Homo sapiens: one gene and its partners. The protein of the gene in region 2 interacts with the protein of the main gene of each other region in a pairwise test. Each region holds a gene or a part of one and is shown on either strand. Other genes may lie near its edges.

Region 1 (7,031 bases), on a different chromosome or scaffold from region 2:
GGAGAGAGTTAGCTGGGTCATAGAAAGACAGCATATTGTTGTCATAATCCAGGAGGACACCCAGACGCTTCAGGTGTGGGGGCACATCCACCAGCATTTCCTTGTTGTTGTGTCTCACCACGAAGTTACTATTGCAGCGAGAGAAGACCCATGAGGAGGCATTCTTGCCAATCCATTCATTCTTTGGAGCTGATTTGTAGGCAATGCCAATTGCATACCTGTGAGACAGTGGAAAGGAGAGAGAAATAAACATTTATGAATTATCTGAGTTGTGTAAGACACCATATATGATATATAACAAATAGGATATATGTTTATTCCTTAAATAGTTTACACTTAGATGCATAATGCTGATATCACTAGAGCTTTAAAAAGTTAGCAATTAGAGCAATGTGGCAGTTTCCATCTCCTAGCCCAGTATATTTTCCATTATTTTATTAAAAAGCTGGCAAATTTTTCTAGGAGTGGTTTTCATCACATACCTTTTAACCTTGACTTATTGGTATTATGGTTGTGCTATAGAATTGAATCTCCTAGGAACCTAATGACAGAGGACAGAAAAGAAAAGGAAAATGGGATCCACTCACCATGTTGAGGAACCCATGACCACCTCCCAATAGTGGCAGCCACTGTCAATGAATATATTTCCTGCTGCCCCATAGCACCCTGTGCCACTAAACCTCTCTGGGGTGTGGCTCTTCTTTAGAGAGCTTTCATCCTTCTCCATCTGCAATCCATCATTGGAGATCTTCAACTTCTTGTGAGTCATTTTGGGATCCAATTTAAAGGGTTGGCCTGAAAAATAAGTAGAAAAAAAAAAAAGAAAAAGCACTATGAAGTATCTTAAAATTCTACCTTTTCCACCAGCATCATCACTGGCAGGGTATGCTCGATAACATGATCACTCTTGGTCCAGTGCAAGTTGGCTGCTGTTTAAATTTTATTAAGAAAACAGGCCAGAAACCAGAGTTTTCAATAAAATAAGAATAAAGGCCAATCTCCCATAAAACGACCTTCATAACGGCGTTTATTTTCCCACTGTGGGAAAAAATGTGGATCTCTCCTAAAAGCAATTTGAGGGAAGTCATATTCCAAGCAAAGAGGAGCTAATAAGCTGTCCCCCACATCATATATTATCAAAGTAAAAGGGAGTGCTCAAAGTTTCATGTTCTCAAATATGTTTTGTACTTTGCTTAATTTCAGTGGGTTGTTTGGGATTTGGGTAGATTTTAACAGAAAGAGTGTTATGATGTCTGAGGTGAGGGGAATTGATGTAATTGCTGCTTGATGGCAGAACCGGAAAACCCTGAGAACTCAGCAACTGAACAATTATTTTTGCCCTCTTACAATTGGGATGTAAATAACATATAATTAGGCAATTTTGTTAGAGTGACTGTTGCATCATCAATGATCAGAGAAAACATTTATTGTGTAGGATCATTCACAACAGATAATTCTTTATAACCATATGACAAAGGCATTGTTACTGAGGGACCAGTTGCTGGGTGTGGCAAGAGATTTTTATACAGAATGCTTCTGTGACAGACACTGTTGGCTAACACATTACCCTTTCCCAACTTTTTCTCTCTTACTCACTTTCACTATAGAGGCCGGAAAAGCTAAATACTCAATCTTCCAGCCTCCCTTACTGCTAGGGGCGGCTAAGAACATGGAAGCAGATGGAAGCAGAAGTCAGACAGAGCAGGGGAAAGTTCTAGGAAAGTTTTGGATTTCCAGATAAAAGGGATAACCATTATGTGTACCAACTCTTTCCTCTTTCCTATCTTGAGAGGTAATATGACATCTGAAAGTTGCAGTGGCCATCTTGCAGCCATGTGGCAAGAAGCCAATGCACACAGGGAGAAGGAGCCTGCATCTTTTATGACATCGCAGAGCAGCTGCATTAGCCCTGAACTGCCTACCTTCAAACTTCTTCCTATGTGTATGTGTGAGAGATAAAATATATACTATTCATTTAAACAATTAACAAACGCTATTTGTTAAGCTATGTTAGTTGCACTTTTTGTTATTTGCTGTCAAAAGCATTCCTAACAGATATGGCTTCTCTGTAGTAAGATTTTACTAGATTATCACAAATAATGCTCTTTTATGCAATTGTCCCCCAAATATAAGGGGTGGAGTACAGAGAAAACTCTTCACTAACATCCTCCCAAGCTAACAGTCTTTTTGTGCATATCTCTGAGTCCACAAATCTCCCATGGGCACCAACAAACTCCTTGCCCAAAGTACAAACTACAACAGTATAGCTCCTCTACCCAGTACCACTGCTCCCCATGCACTGCTGTGAGTGCCTGCTCAGGCTGTGTACTCCCCTGGCATGGAGAAGAAAATTGATCTTTCCTTTTGAAATCACCACAACGTACTGTTTGTTTTTAGTCGGGTAGGTTCACTGTTCCGGCTGCCGGCTTGGTTTATGGCTTTAACGATGAAGATGTAGCGAGTCCCGCTCTGGAGTCCATGCACTGTGTAATGGTTCTGTTTAATGTTGGGAACAATCATCCAGCTGTCTACTGAATTATACAGGCCTGTAACATGGGGAAAGACAAGGACATTAACCAGCAGGTAAGAGAGACAGAATGAAAAACACACTGAAAATTCATCATAAGCCACCCCCTCAAAAGTGAATTCATTTTGTTTTCTTTTGAGTCTTAGAAGATGTAATGAGATGAACCAGGGCTTATGATTCCACTATTTCATTACTCCCATAGAACTAGGCTTAGGCCAGGCTCCTTGCTTGTGGCAATTGAATGGAACTACTAGCATAAGTTAGGTTATTTCAATTTCTTTCCCAGATAACACAGGAATGGCTACTATACAGAGTCACGGAATCATCACTCTTATGGAGTCTCTGGATATTTACTCCAAACGTCCACTCCTCTGAGAGCTGAGTTTGGTCTTGTATGGATGGAGCAATCCTGTGCAGAGCAGGGAAACATGGAAACTCAGCCAAAGGGACACATAGATACTGTATTTCCCTTATTTTACAAATGGGAAACTAGGATTGAGAGAAGAAAAGTGACCTGCCCAAGGCCACAGATAGTCAGTGATGGTGCTGAGAATAGAACCCTGGTATTTTTAAAATGGTAGCCCAGTGTTCTCTCTACTACATCACAGTTCATGGGGTGAACAACAATGTTCTTTTGTCTCTGCAAGGTAGTGAGGCTCTCAGGGCTTACAATTCCACTCTCCTACTCCATCCTTACCCTTACTTCCCAAACTAGCCGGTCTCCACAGTACCGTAGGGAAGCCAAAGAGATGACATGATAACCAAAGCAAGATATCATCTCCCCACTATTACACAACACATTCTGTTGTGTGATTCCCATGTTCATTTTGGGTTGAGTGGTCCAGGAGCACATTGTTATCTGGAATCTTCCTCCCTTCCAAGTAGGGAAAGGGATCAGAGAACTAGGCTTCTGCTTTTGATATATTTTAGACTGCAAATATTAACTTAAACAGGGGAAATGTAAATAATTAAAACATGTATTTGGCAAGCTTTCGGTAAAAGAAAAACCAACATTCTAGTCTGCAGATTATTTAGACTTCTTTCTACTGTTATCTGCTTTTCAGTTAGTTTACCACTTTTTAGCCACAGTTCTACTAGAGGGTAGAAAGGGAAAGGCGAGGAATATAAGCAGTGAATTCAGTCATTTCTATGCAACTCTAGTACAAAATTTAGTGAGGTTGAAAATTGAAAATAATAAGTCATGAATGTTTTGCAAGAGATCTGATCAAAGGGCTTATAATTAATCTGAGAGGAAGTTGAAGAGCCTAAGTTAAAACTAGTAAAAGAAACGATGGAGGGCAAACAGATATGCAGGAGAAAGAGGAGGAAGAATTGGTGGAGGTGCCCAGTGATTCTAATGAAAAGACAATATGGATTAAAAGGGTAGGAGCAATGTTTGAGGCCTTGCCTATGTTACCAATACACAGTATGAATCACAAGCTGCACATAAGATTTTAATACAAAGAGGAAAACATATAATCTCCAGATACACACCCAACAATACAAAGACAAACTTCACAATGAAGTACTATGCAGCTGTGAAAAAAATGAGGAAAAGATCACTATGAACTGATATAGAGTGATTTCAAGGAAATATTGTCAATTGAAAAAAGCAAATTCCAAAAGTATATATGTATATGTAGTATATATGCAGTACACTACTTTTTTGAGAGAAAGAAAAATAAGAAAACATCCATATATTTGCTTGGATTTACAAAGCAACAACAATAAAAACAGGAAAGATAAATAAAAAATTCATGAAGTTGGTTATCCACAAGGGGTAGGGGGTGGAGGAACAGGATTAAAAGGATGTGGGAGGAAATGACATTTCTCTGAATGTACCTTTTTGTATAGCATCCTCTTTGGGAAACACATTGTTTTACAAATTCAAAAAAATAAAATTAAATGAATACAGATGGGAAAATTGGGGACTAAAGCTGAAGGCAAACTGAAACAAACCCAACTGCATTTCAGACGAACAGCATAATTACATCAATGTAGTGGGGGTGGGAGGAAAACCTCAAACAAATCCTGAAGTATTGTTAGCCAGTTTGTTTTTGTTGTGGCGTGGACAGAGCAATTCAGAAACTATTTTAGATGTATTATGGGATTGAGCAAATGAGTACATGTGTTGATGTTGGGAGCCAGGGTTCATACTGTGGAAGAAGGAACATACAAATACAGAATGGAGAAAGGCAGGAAGGAACCTGTGGGGATGGACTGGAATTTAAGGTATTGGTGTAAACTCATGATTTCTAAAATATATATATGTTTGTGTATGTGCACATAAATATGCACATATATAAAGTATGTATGCATGTGTTATTATATATGTGTGCATATGCTTACATGTATGGATATTTGTGTTTATATCTAGCATATCTAGCACTCAGGTCTTGGTCTCTAATATTGTCCCACTAAAAGAAACCAGGGTTTCTTGGAAAATAATGACTGATTTCAAGGCTGGGACAGAATAAGGTCAAAATGAGCCTAGAACATTTTGTTATGCCAGAAAGTAAGGAAGTGCTCAAGAAAATGATGGGGGAATATTATAAGGACCCAGAAATCACCTTGAAAGGCTCCCAATGGCTAAATCTTGACAATTTGAACACCAACACAAGTAAGGGCTGTAAATAATTATTAACAATTGAAAAAAGATAATTCATCAGCCCATACTGATATATAAACAAATGGGAGGAAATGGGGAGTGGAACTCTTGCTTATAGTAGAATGCCAAGTGCCAACTTGAAAATGTGGGAGGGAATACTCAACTGGAAAAATCATCATTTTGCAATCATCATATTAATGATTGATTCAGGCAAGTATCATCAACTGATAATAAAACAAGGGTGGGGGTAGGGATGAGATGGTTTGATGAAGCAGCAGGGTATTTTTATGGTTTTAAAACATACCACACAGATTCCTTATTAGTGGCAAAAGAAAAAGTAGCAACTACAGTGAATAAATCAGACGACATCTTGACTAGGTGATCAAAATTAGCATCATCAGTGAAGGGCAAGTGGACATCATGTGTCTCCAGATATTATACCCTAAGAAAGAACTGTACTGCTAAATATAATCATGAGAAAACTTCAGAAAAAATCAAAATAAGGAACAGTATAATGAAGTATAATAAAGACATAAAAGAACACTTTTTAAAAAATGTCAATGTTGTTCAAGACAAAGAAAGGCTGAAGAAATGTTCCAGATTAAAAGAGATATGGCAAAAGAGATACGACAATTAAATGTAATACCTGACCCTAAACTATAAAGGACAATATTGGGTTCTTTATATGTCATAAAGAATATTATTTGGTCAAATGTCAAAAATTGAAATATAAATGGTGGTTAGATAAAAGTATTGCATCAACGTTAAATTTCTTCAAGTTGGTAACTATACTGTGGTTATGTAAGAGAATTTCCTTATTCTTAGGAAATATACACTGAAGAATTCAGAGGTGAAAGACCATGATGTATGCAATTTGCTCTAAAATGGTTCCAAAAGAACAGGGAATGTTAGCAAATGCTAAAGGAAATGGGACAAATATTAACAGTAGGTGAATTTGGGTAAAGAATATATGGGTGTTCTTTGTGCTAGTCTTGGAAAGTTTTCTGTGATTTTGAAATCATTTCTAAATTTAAAAAGGTAAATATATGATCCTCTAGGTATTACTGAGATTTAGTAAGATGGGACTTATGATTGAATTATGTCAGTGGAAGTATACCTCTTGTTCAAAAGGGAAAAATTACAATATGGAAATCCCTGAACCTGAGTGTAAATGTGTGGTAGAGAGTATTTGCATGAGAATGAAAAGGAAGGGAAATAGAAGTTATGTCTTTCTGGTAGTATGTTATGGTCCGCCTGGCTAGGCAGAGTTTACGGCTAATGCTTTTGTAATGCAAAACACAAAATTCAAACGGAGGAAAGATAATAAAGTAATCAGAAGACAAACACACTCAAATATCTGTTGGAATTCTCATTCACCTCACAGCATAATCTGAAACATCATTGGTTGTGATCATTTCAAATCTTAGAAGAGGTGGGAAGAAAGTTAAAAATCAGGAAATAAAGTTGAAAGAAAAGGTGAAGGGGGAATAATCCTCACCAACAAGCATGAAATTTCTGGATAAAGAAAATGTGAAAAAACGTCAAAGGAAAGTAGCTCTCAGAACGGAGGTTCAGTCAACTGTGGCAGGCCAGACCGGCAGGTAGGATTGGGATCCTGAATCTTCAAAAATACTTATTCCTAGTAAAATAGTTTCTCATTGCCATCCAAAATTTTGCTTCAGGCCTCTGCCCTTGTCCTTGTTCTAACAAAATTTTCTATCAATAACTAGAGGAAGAAATAGAAGGCAGGCTGTGAGGGTAAGCAAGTATATTTGAAGGTAGAATCTGTATCCCAAAGGATTTTAGCATGCTGAAATGAAGTGGCAGAACTAACCAGATAAAATGTACTAGGGATAAATTCAAGGCTTTGTATTTTTGTTTTAGACATTCAATTGT
Region 2 (4,304 bases):
GTTTGGGTTTTTTTCTTGTTGATCATTTTTATTTTTTTGTTTGTTTGGGTGTTAATTACATATAAAAAAGATCCTCACCTGTCCCTCTAACAAAATAGAATTTAAAAGAAATCTTTGGCTTTCTCTAAGGTTACCAGTGCTCTTATAATTTCTCAAGTCAGAGAGTTGTTATAAGGTAGTTATTTTCTTGTTTATTTCCTCTCATGTTTCAGGAAGGGTTCTAGGTGGCTTTCAAGAATTGGTGAAATAAACTAGCCTGTGTTAAAAGAGGGATTAAATAATCAAAAAGACAGCAAGGGTGGGGGCAAAGTGAACAACGAAATCAGAACAGTGATCCAGGTGGCTGATCGCAAGCCCTCTAAAGGCAGAGATAATAAAGAGCTAGAACTTCTTTTTCATCCCTTTGTCTCCCAAGTGTCTTTCCCTGGTAGCTGCAGAGGTCAAAGGTCCCAAACACAGTGAAGAGCTGGACTTTCTAAAATCCAGTTGCTGTCAAAACCTCTCAGAAAAGCCAACCAGCAAGGCACTCATCTTTGCTGCCCCAAGGGACCAGGTTCAGGGAGCTGAGTCACAGAGGAGCATGCTTGGAAGCTGGCCAGCTCCACAGCAGAGCAGTTTGCCAGGCCACGTGCCACCTGCTTCCTGTGGCTCACGGCCTTCTGGCTGGCAAGCCCCTGTGGGCCAGGAAGCTCAGACCTAACCTGCTGTGGCAGGAGGTAGCTCTGAAGTGATTTGTCAGGAACTGTCCTCAGGTGAAGGGAGAAATGAGACAAGGCACTTTTGCTCCCAGAACCTGGCCCTTAGGGGACTGTGAATTGTGATCAGAAAATGGGAGAGAGGACATTTCTTTAACCTTGAGATCTCCCATCTGAGTTTCAGGAGCAGAACCTGAATCAACCAAGAAGGGTTAGCAGAATTGGGAAACTGAATGATAGACATAGTCAAAGAGTCTGGCTGTTGGGAAATCTGGTTTTCTGTAAGGCAGTGGGGCACTGTTCTACATGGGCAAGGATCTGCCTGCCTCACATTATCCCCCAGGGCTGTCAACCAGACCCCAGGCATCCTCTTTAGTTGATCTGGAGGAGATGCTCCTATAGGCAAAGGGGACACCAAAGAGAGCATTCGGCCTGACTCGGCTGTGCCACTGCCACTGTGCTACTTACCTGAAATCTTCCCAACCTCTCTGATGCCATTCGGCACTTCTAGTCAAAAGGATTTAGGCTAACATTTGGTATGAGGACATCGGAGAAGCTGATATTCACAAAACCAGCATAGGAAATCACTACCTTTTAAGGAAGAGATTCCTGTTACAGGCCACAAGCAGATCCCTAAGAGACTTCTCACAGGTTCCACTCCTGACTTAGAGAAGTGTCTGGGCTGTCTTTGCTTACCCAAGCCAGGCAGTGCAGCTGTGTATACTTCATGCTTGAGAATCCCAGCTGCAGCTTTGATAAAGTGGGAGTCCTGAGAAGACCCTTAGCCGTTTGAGTTATTAAACAGAAATCATCCCCACCAACCCTGAGAGCCTCTTTGGCCTCCCTTTTTTATTGGCTGGCCCTCACAAGATAAAGTGTTGCTAAAACTGCCCATCTTTCCATTATGCCTCTCAGGTGGAGGAAGCCTTGACTATCAAAAACACAGATATCGCCAAGGAGCTCTGCCTTCCTCCCGTGAAACTGCACTGCTCCAGTAAGTCTCTGCTCTCCATACCAGTCAGCTGGGACATTTGGCAGTAATTTCAACTTGGTTTGCAACAGTCCTTTTAGATCATGGAGCCCACGTTTGTAACCCTCAGAATTAGAGCTCATGAGTCTGTCCTTATAACCTGCAGAGGGTTAGAGCCCCCATGGTCTCACATTCATCCCTAAGAGAATCATGCCAGAAGGAGGTATGCACCAGCCATCATACTGAGCACTTCATGGGCGTAATTTCTAAACCTCACAAATATCCTTGAGTGCACAGTAGATGTCATTACTTCCCTCTTATGGATGAGGAAGCTAAGGCTTGGGTTGAGACGCCCACATCACATGGCTAATAAGTGGAAGAGCCAGAATTTAAGCTCCAATCTTTGATTTCAGAATCTGTGCTGTTTCCAGCAGAGGAGAAAACTCAGCTTTCGCCATAATCCTGTTTCCTGTGTATTTCTTCACTTCCTGTCTGGATGGTATTCCTGTCGGGGTCTGCATCTGTATATATGGAACAACTAAGCCCAGTTGTACAATGTCCCCCTCCCTGCTATCCTAAAAAAAAGCCCAGATGCCTTAAGACTTGTACTTGGCTTTCCAGTTTGGTCTCTGTATTAAATCTAATGCTTTTTCCATCATTTCTTAACCTTCTCAGGGAAAGAAGGAATGAGAAACATTAGCCTTAATGCATCGATGGAGGTTTACTAACCAAATTAGTTAAAAATCAGCAGAGAGTCAGGCCTCTTGCCAAGGTAATACTCACAGCAGAAGAGCCAGGTGCCGGGGCAGACACACTAACTCATTCTTCAGGAAGCCTGGTCAGACCTAAGTTCTTTCCACTTGATCTGGAATTTTAAGTACCCATAAAGAAAGGTCATCACTTGTAAACATTTTCACATGGTTTCAGGAAATCCCCAGCCCTTTTATTAGGCCTTTTTAGGTACTGAAACCTTTAGCTGATGTTCTCTGTTATTTGCTTGCTTTCTGCTGTCATTCCAGCTCTCTCAGTTTTTATTTTCCCCATAGCCTCACTTTGAATATTGACTCCTAAATAAAAGTGGTCAAACTCTCGATCACTAGAGGGTGATGTGGCAAATGCCATCCCATCAACAGATTGACATGATCTTTTTTCCAAAGGGCATGTCAACTTTTTTATCATGACAAGATTTTGTCCAAAGCTAGACTTTGATGGGAGCAGGCAAGAAGTAACATTTCCTGTGTCCCTACTATGTGTCAGACATCTTCTGTAAGTCCCCACACTATCCTGGCAAGAAAAGCATGATTATCCCAGTTCTATAGAAGAGAAAGTAGGGTCAAAGAGGCTAAGGAACTAGCCTGGGATCACAGATTTTTAACCCTAGTCTGTCTCCAGGATCACCCGCAGGAGTAACTCAGCTCAGGAAGCAGCTGCTGACGTGCCCAGCAACTCCTCACCCCAGCTTTCTGGCTTGGTTACTCCATTAGTCCCCACCAGCACCACTTCCTCCCAGCTCTTAAAGATTCTATTCCCAAGTCCATTTCTTTCACATCTAGAAACTTAGGCTTCTTTCCTTCCGTTACTTCCAGTGCTGGCTGAAGATGCAATCAAGGCCGCCCTGGCTGATTACAAATTGAAACAAGAACCCAAAAAAGGAGAGGCAGAGAAGAAATGAGCCCTCCCTCGGCGAAGCCTCCAGCAGGCCACACCAGCTGTTTCCCACCTGCTGTGCAGTCACCTTAGATGTTCAGAAGCCGCTTCCTCTCCACTGAAGAGCTATGAGATACGCACAATACTTGCTGTTCACGTTATGACTCTCATGCAAGCAAAATACACAGTTTCATTGTTCTGAATCCTGTGGTTTCTTTCAGCCCACTTTTATCGCCTTAACCTAGTTAATGTATATTTTGAATTGTGTGTATGACCTCAGAACTGAAATTGATAATGAAGTTGCAAGTTTTGATAGCCCGTGAAGTGCATAAGTATCTAATTTTACCTGAATTGATTTGGGGGGAAATTACCAGTAGAATGCCTTGGTCTGAATATTTGATAGAACCAATTGTTGTACATAAAACAGATTGCGCATATATATATATGTATAAAAAATAATAAAATAATGGAAGATGATGGTGTTCTCTAGTAAGCCTTGTCTCTTGGGCCCATCATTCACCCTGAAGTGGTGCCCAAAGCCCCTTGGGGTTCCCAGAGGTTGGACCGCAGTGACATACACAGCTCTCCAAGCAAACAAAGACAAATATACGTAATATTTTTTGGAACAAGGATGAAAGGAGATGATTATCGCTTGTCATTGTTCTTTGTGTGATAGTAGTTGAAAGCTCAAAGTAAGTCTTGAAGATTCTTTCTGTAATTTCACTGGTTGCTCAAATCTAAAAAGCATTAGCTTGGCACCCTAAAGCGGTAGACCAGATACATGAAGAGCACCTCGGGAATGAGTTTAAAATGCGGATTTCTAGGCCCAAGTTTCTGACTTCTGTCTGGGCAGGTAATTCCAGAGCCCCTGACTTTTAAGAACCTCTTGGGTTTTTTGTGGTCGTAGATGAGCCAAACTTTAGGGAAGAAACTTCTGAATGCTGTGTTCTGCATAGATGTAGTATCTTAAGTGGTTCATTCTGAACTATCTG
Region 3 (7,447 bases), on a different chromosome or scaffold from region 2:
TCACTTGATTCAAAAATCCAACCTTTTAGCCATTATAACCAGTGGTGAAAACGCAAACATAAAACGCAACAGTGCAAAAAGATAATTCCATTTCACAATGAGATCCAAGGAACAAAAGAAGTTGTTGCTCTAATCATACAATGAGACTATATGATTTTTTTCCCCTTGTTACCTGCCCAGCAATTTATACTACAAATCCAAAAGGAAAGAGGGCCCCTTGAAAGCATTTTTACGTTAATCTAAAGACTAATGAGTATTCAAGGCAGAAAGTACATTCCTAGGAAATCTTGGATAGTATGAATTTCATAGTTTATAATTTAAGCAAGGTAAGCAACAACTGAACTGAGAAGGGTGAATTCTGAATGGTGCTGAAGGCTGGTTGTTGTTCCTCCAGTAAAGTGTCCTTAGGGTGCAGGCTTGGAGTTGGATGGAGTGGATAAAGATTTGGAGGCCAGAGAAGAAGGTGGGGAAATAGAGAGGAAGAAAGCAAAAAGGACTGTATGAAGATAAGCCTGAGTAAAATACAAGGTGCAGGCTTGCTGAAAAGTGTGATTGGTGATGCTTGAAATCCAAGCTCTATCACTTACAAGCTGTGTATTCTTCTGCAAATTATTAGCTTTTCGGATTCTATTTCTTCCTTTGTAAAGGGTGGGTAGTATTAATATCTGCCTCATAAGATAACCCGGGGGAGGGGGGGTCAAGTTTCTAGCATAGCCCAGAAAAAAATTTTTGCTCTACAAGATTGGCAACCTTATCAGTCTTTGTATTATTCTGATTTGTAAATAGGTATCCTAGCCCTGCCAGCCTAAGGAACAAGATGCACATTTTTTAAATTTTTTTTTTTTTTTTGAGACTGAGTTTCGCTCTTGTCGCCCAGGATGGAGTGCAATGGTGCGATTTCAGCTCACTGCACCCTCCACCTCCCAGGTTCAAGCAATTCTCCTGCCTCAGCCTCCTGTGTAGCTAGGATTATAGGCGCCCACCACCACGCCCAGCTAATTTTTTTTTTATTTTTTTAGTAGAGACGGGGTTTCACCATGTTGGCCGGGCTGGTCTTGAACTCCTGACCTCAGGTGATCCACCCACCTTGGCCTCCCAAAGTGCTGGAATTACAGGCATGAGCCACTGCACCTGGCAAGATACACACTTTTAAGTAGGTAGTTCTTGTCCTAAAGGAGTTCATAGTCCAGATGAAGAAATAAGGCAACACAAACAATAGTTAATATACTACAGTCAAATACTTACAGGCAGAATTGTGGTTCAGTGGTCAGACTATAAGCATAAAAAGAATTCAGAACCTGAACCTGAATGTTACCCACAGGTAACACACCAAGCTCATTACTGAATTCTTTTGAGGTGGCTTTTGTGGGTATACATGTACATTCCCACAAGGAAGGGGAGGCCTTGGGGCTCTTCTATTTTCTGTTGCCCTCAGGAGGCCCTGCAAAGACCTTGCCTGGAATTACAAAAATGACCTATGAAATTAGCCTTTTCTACAATGCATTCTTAGAAGAGGGGCTTGGAACTCTCTCGTTAGTGGGGCTCTCACAATTTAATTGTTTGCTCAGCAACTATAAAAGGAACAGGTAAACAAGCTCATTATCAATCATCAATTTAATACTGAGAGGATGTCAGCTTGAGGCTCTGGTAGGCTGTCTTCTTCCTCTATCTCCCCTTTTCAGAAAGGCTGATGCAGACAGAGTGGATCCAAGTTCACACACAGCATGCTGGATAGAACCAGGATTGGAACATGGGCAATATGTACTGTGTTATGCAGCCATAGCAGGCACTTAAGATGAAAGATGTCCTCATTTAAGTGCAAGAGAGGAAGAGGAACTAAAATTTCTTGGACACCAACCATGTCCCAAGATCTATGCTAAGGAGTTTTTCTGGTACCATGTTAAAAAACTGCCTCAGGTCTGCTTCTTGGGAATGTGATATTTTGAGCAAGCCAAAAATTTTCTTTCTGGGGGCCTCAAGTTTTCAAAGCTCCAAAAAGGAGGGTAAGGATTCTTGCTTGCCCACCTTAAAGGGGTTGTTGAGAATCCCAGAAGAGGAACAGACTTAGAAAGGATTTGCAAATCCTTAGTCCCTTATGTATACAAAAGCAATTTCCCTTCCCCTTCTAAATGTTCCCACTTAGAAGGCAGGTCAGAAATGTGTTGTTTCTTGGCCATACAAGGGGCGTGGGAAAATCTGTTACTGCACACGGCATAGTAATAAACAAGAACAGCGCCAAGCCCTCTACCTGTCATTCCATGTCAACTCTATGAGGTCCGTATTATTATATGACCTTTAGAGTCAGAAACACTGAGAGGATACTAGTGAAACTGTGGTGACACTGCTTTAAGGAACCCAGTCTTTCCTGCAACCCCCACCACCCACCTCCGGGATCCTTCGAGGTAGGGGGCTGGGTGCATTTCCCTCCATCTCTCCCTTCCCCTGCCCTGTCCCCAACAATTCACATGTCCTTTCCTCACCCATCCCGGTCCTCAACCTCGCACCCTTGAGGAATTACCTCGCTTCCCAATTCCCATCCTTCACACCCCGCAGGTCTCCCTTTTCTACAGAGGCGATAGTTTGGTGGCAGAAAAAGGGCTTGGAACTCCAATGTCTGGATTCAAATTCTGGTTCCAGCAGTCATTCGCTTGCCATGTGACCTTGAGCAATTCAAGTCCCCTTTCTGAACGTCCCCCCCCCCCGCACCCTTAGCTGTAAAAAATTGCCCGTGCCCTAACTCACAAGCTGCTGCGAGGCGCAGAAAGATAACTTGACAGGGATGCTCGAAGCCAAACCAAAGCACTGCACCAGGGGGAGGAGGTCCTCCATCTCCCTGAGGCCTTGCCCTATGCTTCCTCAGTCTCTCCGCAGCCCCATCAGCTCCAGGCAGTCTCTGTGGCTTTCCTGACTTTTCCCTCTCTGAGGCTCCAGGACTCACCTGCAGGCAGGCTCCGCCAAGGGTTGTGGCCGGCAACCGGCGCCTCAAGGAGAGGGCGACCACCGCCGCCATCTTGGCTCCTGACGTCAGCCCCACCCCTTAACCCCGAGGTCGCTCTCCGCCGGTGTCCCGTCGAACATCGCGGCGCCCAGCCTACATCCACTGAGGACCCACTAGCCGCGTACGAGCAACCAAGTGGGAGGCGGCTTCCGGTTTCCCGGGTGGGCGGAGGGAAGGCGGGGCAAGCACAGCGAGCGTGCGCAATAGCGCAGTAGCGGCGCATGCCCATTTGGCTTCCCCCGTGACCTTCTCAGAAAGGGGAGGAGTCTGAGAGGCAGGGCGACTTTCAGGGGGTGGGGCTAAGACTTAGATGGGGCGGAGCCATCCTATCCGGGTCCCTGCCCCGATTTCAACCTCTTTATTCCTGGAATTTTTGTTTGTTTGTTTGAGATGGAGTCTCGCACTGTTTCCCGGGCTGGAGTGCAATGGCGCGATCTTGGCTCACTGCAACCTCCGCCTCCCGGGTTCACGCGATTCTCCTGCCTCAGCCTCCCGAGTAGCTGGGATTACAGGCGCACACCATCACACCCGGCTAATTTTTTGTATTTTTAGTAGAGACGGGGTTTCATCATCTTGGCCAGACTGGTCTTGAACTCCTGACCTCGTGATCCGCCCACCTTGGCCTCCCAAAGTGCTGGAATTACAGGCATGAGCCACTGCGCCCGGCCAATTTTTTTTTTTTTTTTCAGACAGGGTCTCACTCTGTTGCCCAGGCCGGTGTGCAGTCTTGGCTCACTGCAGCCTCGACTTCCCAGGCTCAAGCGATCCTCCCACCTCCAGAGTAGCTGGGACTACAGGCGTGTGAGCCACCATACCCGGGTAGTTTTTTTTTTTTTCTTTTTTTTGAGATGGAGTATCGCTCTGTCTCCCAGGCTGGAGTGCAGTGGCGCGATCTCGGCTGACTGCAACCTCCGCCTCCCGGGTTCAAGCAATTCCCTGCCTCAGCCTCCCGAGTAGCTGGGATTATAGGCGTCCGCCATCATGCCCGGCTAATTTTTTTGTGTTTTTAGTAGAGATGGGGTTTCACCATCTTGGCCAGGCTGGTCTTGAACTCCTGACCTCGTGAGCCACCCACCTCGGCCTCCCAAAGTACTGGAATTACAGGCATGAGCCACCGCGCCCGGCCACCCGGATAATTTTTTTAAAAAATTATTTGTAGAGATGGAGTCTGGCTATGTTGCCCAGGCTGGGCTCAAGCAATCATCCTGCTCCAACTTCCCAAAGTGCTGGGATTACAGGCGTGAGCCACCACACCTAGCCTCCCTAAGAATTTGTCAGTCTTATTATTCATCTCTGACGCTTACTGGCTTGAGTCAGCCCTTTCTGTCGCATACCGTGCAGCTTGCCCGAGGCTGCCCAGGTTTCTGCACTGAGAGTCCCAAACAAACTGGGCAGTTGGTGAATGAGCTGAGGTGATTTCAAGGGTGGCTGGCAAAGGTGCCATTCTTTTGTTCGTTCATTCATTCATTCATAAATACGAATGGAGTGGCTACTATGTGGCAGGCACCAAGTGCTGGGATGCTGCAGGGAATGAGCAAGCCAGGTGGTCACTGCTCATTGAATTTACTCTCTAGTGGTGGAGACGGCAAGTGAGCAGACAGCTAGACACTGTGAGCTCTGTTCTGTACGAGAGGGTGTGCCCAGAGAAGGACACCCAGTCCTTGGTGGCTTTGTTAGCCATTTAATATAAGAAACCATTTCTACTCTGTGCCAAACATTATGGTCCATTATCCCACTTAATCCCCACAGCAGTTCTGTGAAGAAAGTTTTTTGGTTTTGTTTTTTACTGAGTTTCCATTTTAGACATCTCAGCTTCTTTTTCCAGCCCCCTCCATGGATCTGCTCAGAGCTGGCCTCACTCTTGGGACTTACCTTGGGCAGGAGTGGCCTGGAGCCTCCAAGGCACCTGCCTCTTCAGTCACTCCACGCGTTTGTGTAGATTGTTAACCTTGCAGGTCCCGGGGTTTCGTAGGAGTGATTTTTTTTTCCCCTTTCTGTCTGCTTGTTTTGGACATGTGAAGGGCGCCTTTCTATAGTCTTTGGTTTCCACTCTCACAGCTGATGTGGATGCTACTGGAGACATTGAGATGGCCAGGTCAATTGGCTGGATGGGCTGTTTCTGGAGTCCTTGACTGGAACCCCGCTATACCGCCAGTGTGGCCTCATTAAAGGGGGTGTGTAGTGAGGCCTGAACCTCTAGGTCTAACCTGGAATATTCTCTTCAAGGCCATGTGACCTTGGATAAGCCCCTCCCCATCTTTGACCTATAGTTTCCTTGCCTGAACCATTAGGGTGTTGGGCCCTCTGATTTAAGATTCTGTGATTCACGTGGCTGTCTTGTGGATAACTGGTAACAATGCTGAGGTCACCTTGACTTTCACTGGTGCTGACCCAGGACTGGAACAGGGCCCCTCTGGTCTGCCCCATGGGGCCTCTTGGGTCACCCAAACTGGCTGAGATATGGGAAGACTGCCGCTCTGTCTCTAACTCCTAACTGAATTGTCGTCTGAGCTGAAGAAAGCTCTTCCTGAAAGGAATGTATTTCTAGAGAATTGGTCCTCTTAGCATTTTCAGGGTTCTTTCATCTCAAAGGCAGATGCCACCCCTAGATAAGCAACTACCCTTTCAGTTTGCCCAGGTCACCTTGGAAAAAGCAGTCTGAGGCCAGCATAAGTGAGACCTTGATTTATGGAGGGGCTGTTGGTGCCAATGGGCCCACATGCCCTGCAGTCACATCATTCCTGGGCTTCGTGGGGATTTGGGGAGCTCAAAGTTATGGAGGAATAAATTCCTGGGCGGCTGTACCTCCGCCCTGGACTTTGGGATGCCAGAAAGTCACAGCTGCAGAAGGACTTAGAAATTTTCATGGCCTGATCCTGACATATTTTCCAAAGATGTCCTCATGATAAGACCCTAGGTTTTTTTGGTTTATTTCCATTCGTCTAGAGAGTGACATATTGCTTTTCACCAGACAGTCTGCTAGACACTATGTTTATACTGAACTTTATCACTTGCAAAGGTGTTTACATAAACAGTCTCATTTAGTCCTCATAACCACACTTTTGGGTTGGAAAAGCTGCTCCTGTTTTCCAGACTCTCTCAGTCTTTGGACAGCAGGAAAACTGAGCAGCCTTAGGTGAGCGTTTTGCTTTAGGAGGTCTTTCTCCCCTAAGAGCTGGAAATCATGTCCAGAATTGAAAATTAAAACCAGCTGGGCAAAGTGGCTCATACCTGTAATCCCAGAACTTTGGGAGGCTGAAGTGGGAGGATCGATCCCTTGAGCCCAGGAGTTCGAGACCAGCCTGGGCAACATGGTGAGACCCTGTCTCTACAAAAAAATTTAAAATCCGCCAAGCATGGTGGTGCAAACCTGTAGTACCAGCTACTTGGGAGGCTGAAGTGGGAGGATTGCTTGAGTGCAGGAGGTCGAGGCTGCAGTGAGCTGTGATCACACCACTGCAACTCCAGCCTGGGCAACAGAGCAAGAACCTGTCTCAAAAAAATGAAAATAACAAAATAAAAAAGCATTATGTTGTATCAACTGTCATTTGTACAATCAATTGTAGTCTGGTGTCTTGTAATTTAGGGCAACCTGGATGATTTCTGCCAGCCAGAGGGTGAAGGAGGGTTGGATTTAGGAGGAAATATCAGATGTTGCCTGGGAGATTCATTTGCCTCTGGGAAAAACCCACAGCAACAGATTGCTGTGGTGGAGCTCTGGGGCCTTCTCATCTAAAATTTAGGATTTTTTTTTTCTTTTGAGATGGAGCCTCACTCTGTTGCCCAGTCTGGAGAGCAGTGGCACGATCTCGGCTCACTGCAAGCTCTTCCTCCCGGGTTCACGCCATTCTCCTGCCTCAGCCTCCCGAGTAGCTGGGACTACAGGCACCTGTCACCACGCACGGCTAATTTTTTGTATTTTGTTTAGTAGAGATGGGGTTTCACTGTATTAGCCAGGACAGTCTCGATCTCCTGACCTCGTGATCCACCCGCCTCGGACTCCCAAAGTGCTGAGATTACAGGCATGAGCCACTGCGCCCAGCCAAAATTTAGGATTTTATTTGCCTTTGGCCAGTGGGCTTCGTCCTTTCCGTCTCCCTGGCTGTCTCCTGAGCATCTCCATCTGGGCGTCCCAATGGTCCTTTAAACCCAACCTATCCCAAACGGTACATCTCACCTGAGGAGTTTATACTTGTCTTATTAGCACCACCATCTACCGGATATCCAAGCCAGAAACTCGATGTCATCTTGATTCTTCTCCCCACCCCATATCCAATCAACCATCAACTCCCACCATAGCTCCAAGGCTCCCCGGCTCCCCCGCGGGCCCTTCCAGTTACTTCTGTCCCTGTAATACAGCCTGCTCTATTCCCCGCCTCATTTCACACCTCCAAGCCTTTGCGTACGTCCGTGTCTTGGATCTGGAGTGTCCTTTCCTCCTCCTTCATG

The links. Proteins that work in one complex are often made in the same cells at the same time.
Region 1: the proteins of ISCU (region 2) and MID2 interact in binary tests that used the Homo sapiens proteins (3 or more experiments, as listed by UniProt).
Region 3: the proteins of ISCU (region 2) and SDHB interact in binary tests that used the Homo sapiens proteins (3 or more experiments, as listed by UniProt).

What each region holds. Positions count from the first base shown.
Region 1 is NC_000023.11:107,919,858-107,926,888, reverse strand, and holds part of MID2 (probable E3 ubiquitin-protein ligase MID2), read right to left. Parts: intron 2,547-7,031; coding exon 2,385-2,546; intron 796-2,384; coding exon 588-795; intron 219-587; coding exon 1-218. UniProt on the Homo sapiens protein: E3 ubiquitin ligase that plays a role in microtubule stabilization. Mediates the 'Lys-48'-linked polyubiquitination of LRRK2 to drive its localization to microtubules and its proteasomal degradation in neurons.
Region 2 is NC_000012.12:108,565,580-108,569,883, forward strand, and holds the end of ISCU (iron-sulfur cluster assembly enzyme ISCU isoform 2 precursor), read left to right. Parts: intron 1-1,610; coding exon 1,611-1,689; intron 1,690-2,078; coding exon of another isoform or gene 2,079-2,125; exon of another isoform or gene 2,126-2,340; coding exon of another isoform or gene 2,341-2,393; exon of another isoform or gene 2,394-3,251; coding exon 3,252-3,337; 3' UTR 3,338-3,789; downstream 3,790-4,304.
Region 3 is NC_000001.11:17,051,010-17,058,456, forward strand, and holds the start of SDHB (succinate dehydrogenase [ubiquinone] iron-sulfur subunit, mitochondrial isoform 1 precursor), read right to left. Parts: upstream 3,024-7,447; 5' UTR 3,011-3,023; coding exon 2,939-3,010; intron 1-2,938. UniProt on the Homo sapiens protein: Iron-sulfur protein (IP) subunit of the succinate dehydrogenase complex (mitochondrial respiratory chain complex II), responsible for transferring electrons from succinate to ubiquinone (coenzyme Q).